Regions from separate parts of the Homo sapiens genome. Here region 2 is linked to region 1. Evidence: fine-mapped QTL for protein levels in blood plasma. A gene starts in region 1. The other region holds a variant in brackets. All regions are shown on one strand. Distances are from middle to middle.

Region 1 (8,514 bases):
TTCTACTGGCAGGCCTGCTTTACTCTAATGATACAACAAAAAGCAGGAAATGGCAATGATGGAAGGAAAGGAAAAATCCACGATTTAAAATGATCATTTTGACGGGGCATGCAGTGGCTCACGCCTGTAATCCCAGCGCTTTGGGAGGCTGAGGCAGGTGGATCACTTGAGGTCGGGAGTTCAAGACCAGCCTGGCCAACATGGCAAAACCCGTCTACTAAAAATACAAAAATTAGCCGGGCACGGTGGTGGGTGCTTATAATCCCAGCTACTTGGGAGGCAGAGGCAGGAGAATTGCTTGAACCTGGGAAGCAAAGACTGCAGCAAGCCGAATCTCTCCACTGCACTCCAGCCTGGGCAACAGAGTGATACTCCATTTCAAAAAAAAAGATCACTTTTTTATCAAAATTTGGAAAACTACTCACAGAAAACAAACAAACAGAACCAAAACCAATGTCCAAACCTGACAACTATGAACAGGCTGAAGCAGAGTAGGGTGGCAGATGTGGCAGAAGTGTGTGTGTATCAGCGTGGGGGCTGGTGGCAGGGCATTCTCCCTGGGCCCCTTTGCCACACCTGTCCTTACAGGTAACCCTGCCCCTCCCTAGACGGACCTGGGGCTGTGGCCCTGTCTGCCACCCAGGCAAGGACCCCTGCTGGTCACCGGCCTCTGCTCTCCCTGCCTCTCAGACCCTTGGCAGCCCCTGGGCCTGGCCCACCCCTTTCCACTGCAGAGCTCCCAGAACCTTCCAAAATTACACTCCCAGAAAGCCTGGTTAAGGGAGAGAGCTGAAGTTCTCCCTCATGAATGACTAACAGCTACGCTTCCCTTCTGTCTTATTTCACGCCACTTACCTTTCTACCCAGGCAAACTATAAGCAACGCACGCATGAAACACAGATTCTCTGAGCATCTCCAGATCCGAGCTGTTCTTTGCATGCTTCCTGCCACACACTGTGCAGTAAACAATGACGGGCCTACAACAGCGCTTTCTTACATCTCACTATGACGTTTTCACATCGCTTACAGAATACAACCGTCATTAGCGCATTTCCAGTTTGCTCTAATTTATGCCAAACATCTTTGTTTTAAGCAGCACTTCCCCATACAACGCCTTCTAGCAACTTCGTAAGTGAGCACCCTCAAGTCCCGTGAGAAGTCTGGACTCACAGGGCCAGGGAAAAGCTTCCCCACCTCAACCCAGGTCTGTAACTCCACACCCTCCACACCACCCAACGCCTCTATCTACAACTCACACACGCGCACACACACACACACAAAGCGCACACACACACAGCACACACACAAACACACGCACACACAAACGCACACACATGCATACAAACACAAACACATACACAAAGACACACGCACACGTATGCACACACAAACTGCAGAGGAAAGGCAGCACACCAAAGCACCCAGAAGACAAATGTGGTTACATCTGGAAGTCAAGCATCAACTTTTAAAAACATAAAAAGCTATTCTGAATAACTTTTAACTTCACTTCACCCCCAACTGTCTACAACTAATGAATTACAAATAGCACCTTATACAAATGACTTTTCTTACTGCTGAGAAATCCTGGAGGTCTCATCTGTCTATAAAGAGTTATGCATCCGTAACTGCCGATGTTGGCTGCTAAAGCCAGCAAATAAATGCTGTGAGAGACAGACAGGGACAAAGTGTGTTTTTAAAAATACATGACGTGTAAACCTCAGTAATCATCTCTCTTTTCGAATAAAAATTATTTTCTATAAAGCAGGTGTTCAAAACATATTATTAATCAGCAACAGTGAAATTGTTCCTCCTTGCAGCATTCCACCCATATGGACATTAAGTCACTCCTGCACAGAATCTAGAATACTGACCAGTCCGTACTCAGGTTATGGTTAACCAGAGAAAAGAATTAAAACCCGTTACATCTTGAGTCAATGAGAATTTTTACTTGCAGCCAAAGTTAGTGACTGGAATCAATATCAGACAACAGCAAGTTCGTCTACTGCTGCCTGGGAACATGACCTACTGGCCACAGTCGGGAGGGGTACTCAGACCTCACCTTCAGTGCCCAGGGGCCCATGGAAGGGGAGTGGGGCTGGGACAGGTGGGCAGGGCGTCTGTGGACCTAGGGCAGTTTCCTCAGAATCTACCTTGGCTTCTTGGGCACCAGCGGGCTGTGGGGTGCAGGGGAACAGGTGGAGTACGGGGGGGACAGCTGGGGTGCGAGGGACAGCTGGGGTGCAGGGTAAACAGGTGAGGTGTAGGGGGACAGGTGAGGTGCAGAGGACAGGTGGGGATCAGGGGGACAGGTGGGGTGCAGGACAGTTGAGGTGCAGGGGACAGGTGGGGTTCAGGGAGAGAGGTGGGGTGCGAGGACAGGTGGGGTGCGGGGGAACAGGTGGGGTACGGGGAGACAGGTGGGGTGCGGGGGGACAGGTGGGGTGCAGGTGAACAGGTGGGGTGCGGGGGACAGGTGGGGTGCGGGGGGACAGGTGGGGTGCGGGGGGACAGGTGGGGTGCGGGGGGACAGGTGGAGTGCGGGGGGACAGGTGGGGTGCGGGGGGACAGGTGGGGTGCGGGGGGACAGGTGAGGTGCAGGGGGGACAGGTGGGGTGCGGGGGGACAGGTGGAGTGCGGGGGGACAGGTGGAGTGCGGGTGAACAGGTGGGGTGTGGGGGGACAGCTGGGGTGCAGAGTAAACAGGTGGGGTGTGGGGAGGACAGGTGGGGTGCGAGGGGACAGGTGGGGTGCGGGGAACTGGTGGAGTGCAGAGTTAACATGGGGTGCTGAGGGACAGGCGGGGTACACGGGGTGCGGGGAACTGGTGGGGTGTGGGGGGACAGCTGGGGTGCAGAGTAAACAGGTGGGGTGTGGGGAAGACAGGTGGGGTGCAGGGGGAACAGGTGGGGTGCGAGGGGACAGGTGGGGTGCAGAATAAACAGGTAGGGTGCGGGGGGACAGGCGGGGTGCGGGGGAATAGGTGGGGTGTGGGGGGGACAGCTGCGGCGCGGGGGACAGCTGGGGTGCAGGGTAAACAGGTGGGGTGCGGGGGGACAGCTGGGGTGCGGGGAACTGGTGGAGTGCAGAGTGAACAGGGGGTGCTGAGGGACAGGCGGGGTACACGGGGTGCGGGGAACTGGTGGGGTAGGGGGACAGGTAGGGTGCGGGGGAAAGACGCCGGCTTTCCTTACACCGGTCCTTCTCTGCATCCTGAGGCGGACCGCATTCTTCTCCTTTACCGGAAAATCTAAGTTACTGCACGACCCCCCAGGCGAAGCCAGCTCGCCCCTCGGGCTCCTTCCGCCGATCGGAGTTCGCTCCTGCCCCTGGGGCCAGGGGTCCCTGCTGCCAGTCCCTGCTCCCCCCGCCCAGGCCCGCGCCGTTATCCTGAGGGGCCGGGGGCGCCGCGGAAGGGGGAGCTGCTCGGGGGGAGGGGGTCTCAGCCCCTTCCCTGAAACATCTGCGCAGGGGGTCGGGGGCGCAGCCACCTCCGGGTGGGACCCAGCGATTTCGGGGGAGCCGGGCAGAAGTGCAACTCTCAAAGGAAACCAGAAGCCCGCGAGGGGACCCACGGTCCGCGGGGCCCGCACTCACCTCGGCGGCCAGGACGCGACCCGCAGTCCCCTGCTGTTCCCCGCCGTCCCCCGCTGTTCCCCGCCGTCCCCCGCTGTTCCCCGCCGTCCCCCGCCGTTCCCCGCCGTCCCCCGCGTCCCCCGCGTCCCCCGCGACCCCGTCCGTCCCGGATCGCGCGCCCGCCGGCTACAGGGATGCGCCCAGCCCCTCCCGCCCGGACGGCCTGCTCCACCCACCATGCTGTCATTGGCGGGCCCAGACCGTTCCGGGCGCCCATTGGCCGCAGAGCCTGCCGGTTTCTCGGCAGCGCCCTGCCCTCGCGCCCGCGCATTCCTTCGAGGCCACGTGGCCGCCCGCGCCCCCTCCCGCTGCCCAACGCCCGGCCCAGGCTGCGCACGCGTGGGAGGGGGCGCGCGGCAGAGGCTCCCGCCCCCGGATCATCTCCTGCCCCGCGGACCCCGGGCCGCGCTCACTTCGGGAGGGGTCGCTGGGCAGACCGAGTGCCCTCCCCGCCCCCAACATCTGGATCCTCCCCGCAGAGCCTGCTCCCGGCTCAGAGCTGCGCCCCTTGGGGAGGGTGCGCCGGGCAGACCCTAACCCTCTCCCAGAGCACCGCCCTTTCTGCGGACCCCCACGGGCTGAGCTCACCTGAGGGAGGGGGCGTCGGGCAGACGCTCCCCCCCCCAGAACATCGCCCCTCCCTGCGGACACCCGGGGTGCGCCCAGCCGAGGAGGGGGCGTCGGGACCCCACCCGACCCGCCCTTGAGCCCCCGTCCCTCCGTCCGCAGCTGGCCCTGCCCACAGGGCGTTCCGGGTCTTCCGCGCCAGCTGCCCTGGACCAGCCAAGGCTTGGGCGTTTGGAAATGCGATGACTTCAGCCACGTTTCCGAGGCAGTTTTTGAAGCTTGCTTCTTGCCAGGAAGCGCTCGTTTTTCCCGGGACCTTTCCAGGGAATGGCCCCTTCTGAGTTATTGGAATTGTTTACTTTGAGCATTTATTTGTCTTATACTTTTAAAAAGGAAACAGATTATCGTTATAATTACTATTAAAGAAAAAAAAAAACGAGAAACAAAGACATTTTTAACCAAAATAACTAAAGGATGTTATCTTTTACCTGGTCAGCACATTTAACAAGTGTGTTCGCAGATGCTAGATTTATTTCTATGCCTTCTCCTACCCAAATCTCCGAATCATAGAAGTAATTTTAAGTCAGTGTTTTAGAACTGTCAGACTTCTTAGAGATTTCTAGCCCCTTTCACTTGTTTTATAGAAGAAATACAAACAGCTATTTGGGATGCTAAGTATCACGAAATTAATCTAAACATTAACTGCCCTTAAGGCTTGTGTGCTCTGGAATAAGTTATTTCCCTGAAAATTTTGGACTATGTAAAAATCATAGCCAACATAGAAAGACTACAATGGCTGGAAAAAATAATCGTAGGTAAGGTGATATTTTTTCAATGTTTATTATTCACACTTGCTAATTTTATGAAATCAGACTGAGTTGTTTTTATGAATCAATTGAAAAAGGTATTTGCTCTCAGCGACCTTAAGATTAGAAAACTTATTTCAGGTTTCTATTCCTAGGGTTCTCTGGGTACCTTATTCAGAGATCTTCTGCACAGATCAATGGTCAGATCAATGGTCTTGATCAACAGAAGTAAGAAGGTCAACTAAATTAGTTCTTGTTTACCTAAATACGATGAGAAAATCCTGATACTTGTAGTGTTTTCTAAAAAGGTAGAGATAAGAGGAAATAGTCCTGTGTATGGAATAAACAACTCATTTTCTCAATGGATGAAATTGAGCCCCTAAACTCAGGGCCGCCAGGGACACCACTGAGTAGGGCCACAGAGCAATGCCTTCCAGGCAGGTTGGGCAGAAAATCCCCTGATTTGGAGCTCCAATAGATCCTGTCTGTCTGCTTTATTCAGGCGTTCCTCACAGATACATCCCTATTTTCGTAAGCCCGGATATGGAAGAGTTGGGATTTTCCATTGTGATTCCCTCTTTGACCCATGGGATATTTAGAAAAGTTAGGTTCACCTTTCAAATATATGGGGACTTTCTGGTTTTCTTTTTATTGTAACTAAAGTTTAATTCCACCGGGCCTTAAAACATCAGCTGTTTTATTTTTGTCGTTTAAGATTTTCAAACACTTGCTTCATGGCCCAACATTGTCTATTTTGGTAAATGTTCTATGAGCACTTGCTGAGAACATGCTTTCACTGACATAAAGTTCTACAGATGTCAATTAGGTCATATTTGTTACTGATTTTTTTATCTACTTGTACTTTTTATCTACTTGTACTTTTTATCTACTTGTACTGATAAGGGTGTATGAAAATCTTTGACTCTCCGTAGTCTATTCAGCATTGTCCTGCAGCATCTAACAAGTGTTGTAGGTCATAAAAACAAAAAGTGTAAGGATTGAGGGAGGAAAAACTGATTATTTACAGTCAATATGATTATATATGTTAAAAAACAAAATTATCTACAAATAAACTATTAGGATTAAAATAGAATTTAGGAATTTCAGATGGATCATAGACTTAAGTGTAAAAATTATAAAGTTGCTAGGATAAAATATAAGAAAAGATCTTACGGATCTTCAGGTAAGACAGAAAATGGACCGACCATTTAAAAATGATTAAATGGCTTATCAAAATTTAATATTTCTACTCATCTCATGACATCATTAAGAAAATGAAAAGGCAAGCCACAGACTGGGAGAACACAGGGGCAATGCATATATCCCACAAATGGCTTGTCTTAATCCACGTTGTGCTGCTGTAACAGAATACCTGGGAATGGGTGATTTACAATGAAAAGAAATTTATTTCTCACAGTTCTGGAGGCTGGGAAGTTCAAGATCAAGGAGCCACATCTGGCAAGAACCTTCGGGCTGCATCATCCCATGACGGAAGGTGGGAGGCGGAGGTGGGGAGGGAGGATGCAAAATGGGCCAAACTTATCTTTTTTTTTTTTTTTTTTGAGACGGAGTCTTGCTCTGTCATCAGGCTGGAGTGCAGTGGTGCGATCTCTGCTCACTGCAACCTCCGACTCCCTGGTTCAAGCTATTCTGCCTCAGCCTCCCGAGTAGCTGGGATTACAGGTATGTGCCACCACACCCAGCTAATTTTTGTATTTTTAGTAGAGACGAGGTTTCACCCAAACTCATTCTTTTATAAGGAGCCCACCGCCTCAGTCATGGCATTTATCCATCCATGAGGGTCATACCCCCATGACCCAGACACCACCTAGTAGGCACCTTCCAACACTGCTGCATTGGGGGTCAAGTTTCCAACACATAAACTTTGGGGAAAACGCGTTCAAACCATAGTCCTGGTAAATAGAGAACTCCTGCAAATGAACAATAACAAGACAAGTCTATTTCAAAAGGGACAAAACAATATAACAATAACAAGCCTGTAAATAACAATAACAAGTCTATTTAAAAATAAACAAAAGACGTAAATACTTCACCAAAGATGTACTGATAGCCAACAAGAACAGGAAATAGTGCTCAGTGTTACCCAAAGTAAACTCACAATGAGATGCCACCACCGTCATCCAAGCACGGCTGAAACTGCAGACCGACATGGCAAGGGTAAAAATGTGGAGCCCCTGGAACCACTATACAAGGCGATGAGAGTGCAAATGGCGCAACCACTCTGATTAATTGTTTGCCCATTTCTCAGCAATCCCACTTTTAGGTTTGCCCAAGGCAAGTGAAAACATAAGTCCCTTAAAAGACTTTTACAGCCAGACATGGTGACTCCCACCTGTAACCCCAGCACTTTAGGAGGCCAAGGTGGAGGATTGCTTGAGCCCAGGAGTCTAGCATGATAGTCTCCACCTCCAGTCCCAGCTACTTAGGAAGCTGAAGTGGGAGGATCGCTTGAGGCTGGGAGGTCAAGGCTGTAATGAGTCATGTTCACCACCACTGCACTCTAGCCTGGGTGGACAGAGCAAGACCCTGTCTCAAAAAAAAAAAATGATTTTTACAAGAATTCTTTCTTCAAAACAGTTCAAATACTTCGCAACTGGAAACAACCCAAATTCCATCAACAGGTGAACTCATAAAGTATTGTATCTTCATAGAATAATAGAATACTAATAATACAGTAATAAAAAGGAAGAAACTGATATGTTCAATAACAATGAATCTTGAAAACATGAAAAACATAGACAAAAGGGCACATATAGTATGATTCAATTTTTATGAAATTCAAGAATGTGCCAAACCAACCTATAATAATAGGAATCAGAACAGTGGTTATTTTTGGGGGTATTGTCTCAGAAAAGACAAAGGAATTCTGGGGAGTGATGAAAACGGTGACTACATCTTGATTTGATTTGCAGACACATGGGTGTGTTCACTTTGTAAATAGAATCAAGCCGAACACAAGAGTAAGCTACTTCATGGGATATATACAGTGGCCTCAATGCATCCCCCTTGATGACTGAAAGTTCATCACCAACGTGATAGCAGTAAGAGGTGGGGCCTTGAGGAGGTTAGTGGGTCATGAGGGATGGGCTTAGTGCCCTTGTAGAAGTGCCAGGGGGCTGTTCACCCCTCCTACCAGTGAGGGCACAGTGCTCAAGGTGCTGTCTTGTGAGCAGAGACCAGGCTCTCCCCAGACACTGAACCTGTTGGCACGTTGATCTTGGACTTCCCCACGTCCAGAACTGTGAGAAATAAACTCCTGTTGTCTATAAATGACCCAGTCTCTGGTGTTTTGTTACAGTAGCAGGAACAAATTAAGTTATGTATCAGCAAAAAGGGGTTTTAAAAGCTGGGTTCCTTTAAAAAAATAATGATTCCCTTTATTGACGGAATACAAAATATCCCTTAATTAATTGCAAGCAAATTAAGTGCAAGGCCCATGCAGAGGGTAGGGATAATCTATACCCTAGTTAGGACATTCAGAAAGGAA
Region 2 (5,143 bases), 38 kb before region 1:
CTTGTGAAACAGCCAGAAATAAACTGCACCAGCACCCAAATGCATCAGGCTAGAGTTAGAAAGAAACGGGATGTTCTCTCCCACTCCACATGTGCATGGGAGCCACGGCTGTGACCGGCACCCAGATGCATCAGGCTAGAGTTAGAAAGAAACGGGATGTTCTCTCCCACTCCATGTGTCCACAGGAGCCACGGCTGTGACTGGCCTGAAGGGGCATCCGCCTGGCACGCTCAAAAGATGTTCAAGAGAGGAGTGGTTACGCTTGTGACATGTGACACCAGCTTTCACTGGCACACGCTCACATCCCTCCACACGCAAATACACGCGCAGTCCGACCCGCCTGACGATTCCTCCCTGCCTGTCTGTGGCTCTCCAGGGTGAACGGTGAGCCGTGAGCAAAGCCGCAG[T/C]GCAGGTTTCCCAAACATTCCACACAGGTGGGGTACGAACTTAGACCATCCAAGGACAGCCTGAGACGCCAGTGCAGAAGAAGCAGACCCTCCCACCTCGGAGGGCTCCTGGGCAGAAGCCAGCCAGAGTCTGTGATGGCTGTACTGCGTGGGTGCGGGCCACGTGGTCCCTTGACGAATCTGCCACCGCCCAGCCGCGTGGCACCAAGAATGATGTGGGGAAGGAGAGCCAGCAGCACTCAGCGGCTGCTGCTCATCGCCACACTGGCAGCTGTCCATGAAACACTTTCTAAAGGGAATTTATCTTTGGAATGAGCAACAGTTCTCAACCGTTTTCAAACCGCAGCAGTTGGCTCAAAGTCGGAGACAGCTGAGCTCGATGTAACCTGCTTGGAGGTCTCATCCCTGAAAACAGGTCCCTGGTCACACCAGGAGCTGCCACACAGCTGGATGCTGACTAGCAACAGACACGAGATGCCCGAGGGGCTGGGGGGGTGGATCTGCGGGTAGCGCTGCAAATCCCACATGCATCTGCTGGTTCAGTGTTCCGGGCCACCTTCCTGAGTGGCAGGTGTCAGGGCAGACACAGGGCCAGGATCTGAAATCCAATCTGCCTGCTCCAAAAACTGCCCTTCCCACACTGCCACACTGCCTCAAAGAAACACCCAAAGATCCAGCTGGCCGCGGTGGCTCATGCCTGTAATCCCAGCACTTTCGGAGGCTGAGGCGGGCGGATCACGAGGTCAGGAGATCAAGTCCATCCTGGTCAACATGGTGAAACCCTGTCTCTACTAAAAAAAAAATACAAAAAATTAGCCGGGCGTGGTGGCGGGCGCCTGTAGTCCCAGCTACTTGGGAGGCTGAGGCAGGAGAACGGTGTGAACCCGGGAGGCGGAGCTTGCAGTGAGCCGAGATCCCGCCACTGTACTCCAGCCTGAGCGACAGAGCGAGACTCTGTCTCAAAAAAAAAAAAAAAAAAAAAGAAGAAGAAAAAAAGGAAAAGAAACACCCAAAGAGCCACAAAGCTTTTACTTGTGTTTTGCAGAGGGACAAAGGCAGGACGTGCTGCCCAGCAGCAATCTCGCTGCACGGTGAGAAATGTCTCCCCCACGGGGGTGTCCAGGAGCACAGACTCCCATCCCCAGAGCACACACATGAGCCCTCTCAGGGCTCCACCCCAGGAAACTCTTCTTTCCTCCGCCTTCCGGGAAATTAAGGTGCAAACTGAGTCTGTCAAGGTCAGAAGGAGGCAGACACGCTGGCCAGGGAGTCGCCTAAACAGCTCCGAGCAGCAGCGCACCCAGAGGCTTCTGGCCACAACAGCCCGTGCGTAAACAAGAGCAGGACCTGCCTGTGGACGTCTTTGAGAGCTGGTTTCGGTAGGCAGGAAAAATAACGGAATCTGGTCATCCCAGTTTGGCCAGCTGGGAGCTCCAGGCAGGGCTCTGCAACCTCCCACCGCAGGCCTGGGGATCCTGGCTGGGCTGTACGTCCCGGGGAAGCCCTGCAGAGCCAGGCGGCCGCCCCGCCCCAGGGAGGCTCCAGAGCAAGGAACAGAAAAGCCAGCAGTGCCACCAGGCAGGAAGTGTGGGCCAGGCTGGGGACCGGGCCTAACACCAAATCCACGCTTTTCCACCTCCCAGGAAGGAGGTCTGCGTTCACATCCCTCATTCAATGATCAAAACGCAACCGGAGAACCACCTGCTCCTCTACTCCGGGACTTAAAATAGTCTTTATTAGAACAAGGCTTTATTACTGGCTCTAGGTTGACAGAACAAAAATAAGCAAATTGTTTTAAATTCATGCTAAGTTATTTTAAAAATAAATTAAATGATATGCAATTATTTTAAATAATCAAATAATATTTTAAAATAAGAAAATCACTTTAAAACAAACGTATTTTCCTTCAGCCAAGAATCCTACACTCTGCACGCCCTCATTTCCAGGGGGTTCTCATGCTCCGCGGTCACAGAGTGACAACAGCAGCGTGGATCATGCAGACCGTGGTGAGTTCCGAGGACTCTGGCCGACTTCAACAGGAAAACGCACAGGAGGCCGTCTATTCTGAAACCTCTGTGTTTCCCAAAATCCAAAATTGAGATTTTTCTTTAAGGATTTTTTTTTCTCAACTGTTATTAACTGGAAAGGGAAGGCTGCTTCCACTGAAACCTTTACAGGAATAAGAATCATGTCTCAGGCGTAGAGGCTGTGGGCTTCCATTAGAGGAACATCCCATGAACCCTGGGAATCCTGCAGCGCGTTCCTGGGAAAGACAGCATAGAAACAGATCTGGGCAAAAAAGGAAAACTTCGGCTGAGACGCCTCGACTGGGTCGCTCCTGAAGACAGAGGCAGGGTATGTGCTTACCCTCACCCTGGCGCCTGGCCCTACAGCAGGGCCGGCAGGAGGCCCCAGCCCTTGGGCTGCAGTCGAAGCAGCCACGGACTGCACGCTGTCCTTCCAGCAGAACCCTGTGGCTCTGCAGACACAGCTGGTGCGTGACTACACATGGCAGGGCCATGTAAGGACAGCAGAGAACGGGCTCCACCAACCAAGCCCCTTCTAGAGCACATGGCCACTCCTTCTCACTAAGTGGAGGAGGAAGCAGACTCGAAATGGAGCTGTCAGCGCTGAGGACACAGAGACCGGAGGTGAGCGAGGCACCCACGAGGGCACCCACAGTCCTCGCTCGGAGCATGTCCTGGCTACAGGGAACACCGTCCTCAGTGGCCGACTCTGAGCCCTTTGTGCTGCCCCAGGTGGCTCTGACCTTCCACTGAGGACTCTGCTGAGATCCTGCGGCATCTTCCCGGCGAGGAAAAGCATGAGTGGGAAACAGGGAGCCCCTGAGGCAATTCTCCCACCCCCACCACCCCTCCATCCTCTGGAATGAAGACAGCGAGACACACGCTTTGACCCCAGGGAGTCTGAGTCTATAGACAAGCAGGTGACACGGGACATACATAACGGTAACTGTCATCTAGCACAGTAAGTCATACAGGCCAAAAACTGCACACACTCCCGTGAGCAGCTGGTGGGGGAATCAGAGATCGGGGTGAAGTTCAAGGCACCCCAGACATGAGGGGGCAACACATTCGGCACCAGACGTTGTTTCAAAAATTTCCAAACCATACACCCTGGCCTTCCCTCAGTGGTGTTCCTGTCACTGAAGATGAACTAGGGGCTCATTTTCCAACTCTGTAAACAAACATCTAATGACCTGGGTGGGGGCAGGGGGAAGGTCAGGCCCGGACTCTACGGAACCACAGGCCACATCAGGGGCATGGAGAGGAGGAGGAGGGAAGGTCAGGCCCAGACTCTACGGAACCACAGGCCACATCGGGGGCATGGAGAGGAGGAGGAGGGGGGAAGGTTAGGCCCGGACTCTACGGAACCACAGGCCACATCGGGGGCATGGAGAGGAGGAGGAGGGGGGAAGGTCAGGCCCGGACTCTACGGAACCACAGGCCACATCCGGGGCATGCAGAGGAGGGAACCACAGGCCACTTCGGGGGCGTGGAGAGGAGGGAACCACAGGCCACTTCGGGGGCGTGGAGAGGAGGGTAGCAGTACCTTCTTCGTCCAGGGACGTGGCGCAGATGATGACCGGGCTGGAGTAGGCGGGCAGCAGGAGGGGCAGGTTGGAGGGCACCGCATAGCCGCAGGGTACAGGCACCAAGTACCCGCAGGGCACATGGAGACCCACATTCTCCTCCTCAGCGCTGGGCACGGGGGTGGGCGGCTGGTCCTCCTGGAATGGCGTGATGTCGATGACAGAATATGGGTTGACTTTCATCGGGAGCACCAGCTTAGTAGGCTCTGCCACTGGGGTGGTTTCTGCTCCAGCTCCATCCTCACCTCCTGGGGATGCAGAAAGGACTTGTCAGCAGACACATCACCAAGGGCATGGCAGGCATGCCCTCCTGGAGCGCAAGTGGGAAGCAGGTATGAGCTCCCACCATCATCCCATGCCAGGACCCCTAGACGTTCCCAGGTCATCAGGTGGCCTCGGAGGGAGCACTCACACATGGGGAACCCAGCATCACCTCTGGGCACAGGTGAGACGGATGCAGCCTGGTCACTACAGGAGGCTCATCCCATGAGCTAAGTCAGGGAGAAGCTGCCGGAGGAGGGCAGCTGCTCCCCTCACCAAGAGTCTGGTGCTACACACAAAGAAACACCATGCAAGCTGAGAGGCGGGTGCTGTGCACAAAGAAACGCCATGCAAACAACCGAGAGGCTGATGCTATGGCCAAAGAAACACTGTGCAAACAACCGAGAGGCTGGTGCTATGCACAAAGAAACACCATGTAAGCAGAGAGGCGGGTGCTGCGCACAAAGAAACACCGTGCAAACAACCGAGAGGCAGGTGCTATGGCCAAAGAAACACCGGGCAAACAACCGAGAGGCTGGTGCTATGCACAAAGAAACACCGTGTAAGCAGAGAGGCGCGTGCTGCACACAAAGAAACACCATGCAAACAACCAAGAGGCAGGTGCTATGGCCAAAGAAACACCGGGCAAACAACCGAGAGGCAGGTGCTATGGCCAAAGAAACACCGGGCAAACAACCGAGAGGCTGGTGCTGTGCACAAAGAAACACCGTGTAAGCAGAGAGGCGCGTGCTGCGCACAAAGAAACACCGTGCAAGCAGAGAGGCGGGTACTATGCACAAAGAAACACCGTGCAAACAACCAAGAGGCAGGTGCTATGGCCAAAGAAACACCGGGCAAACAA

Direction of the effects. Alleles are on the strand shown, and positions count from the first base shown. The strength of an association depends on the size of the effect and on how common the allele is.
For the plasma level of the protein whose gene starts at base 3,782 in region 1, allele C in region 2 goes with a higher level than allele T (strong association).

What was found. PIP is the chance, under the fine-mapping model, that this variant and not a neighbour inherited with it causes the effect. Protein levels are from antibody-based Olink assays in UK Biobank. Linkage for the fine-mapping came from a reference panel and not from the study's own genotypes, which makes the PIPs less certain.
Region 2: its variant is fine-mapped to the plasma level of the ARHGEF10 protein (UK Biobank, PIP above 0.99).

What each region holds. Positions count from the first base shown.
Region 1 is chr8:1,819,194-1,827,707 of GRCh38, reverse strand. It overlaps ARHGEF10 (Rho guanine nucleotide exchange factor 10), which reads right to left and starts at 3,782. Exons shown (of 29, transcript NM_014629.4): 1 at 3,595-3,782.
Region 2 is chr8:1,859,022-1,864,164 of GRCh38, reverse strand. It overlaps ARHGEF10 (Rho guanine nucleotide exchange factor 10), which reads right to left. Exons shown (of 29, transcript NM_014629.4): 4 at 3,981-4,268. Among named protein-coding and RNA genes, the nearest start is that of ARHGEF10, 38 kb to the right of the region's middle. The variant T/C (reference allele first, on the strand shown) is at 408.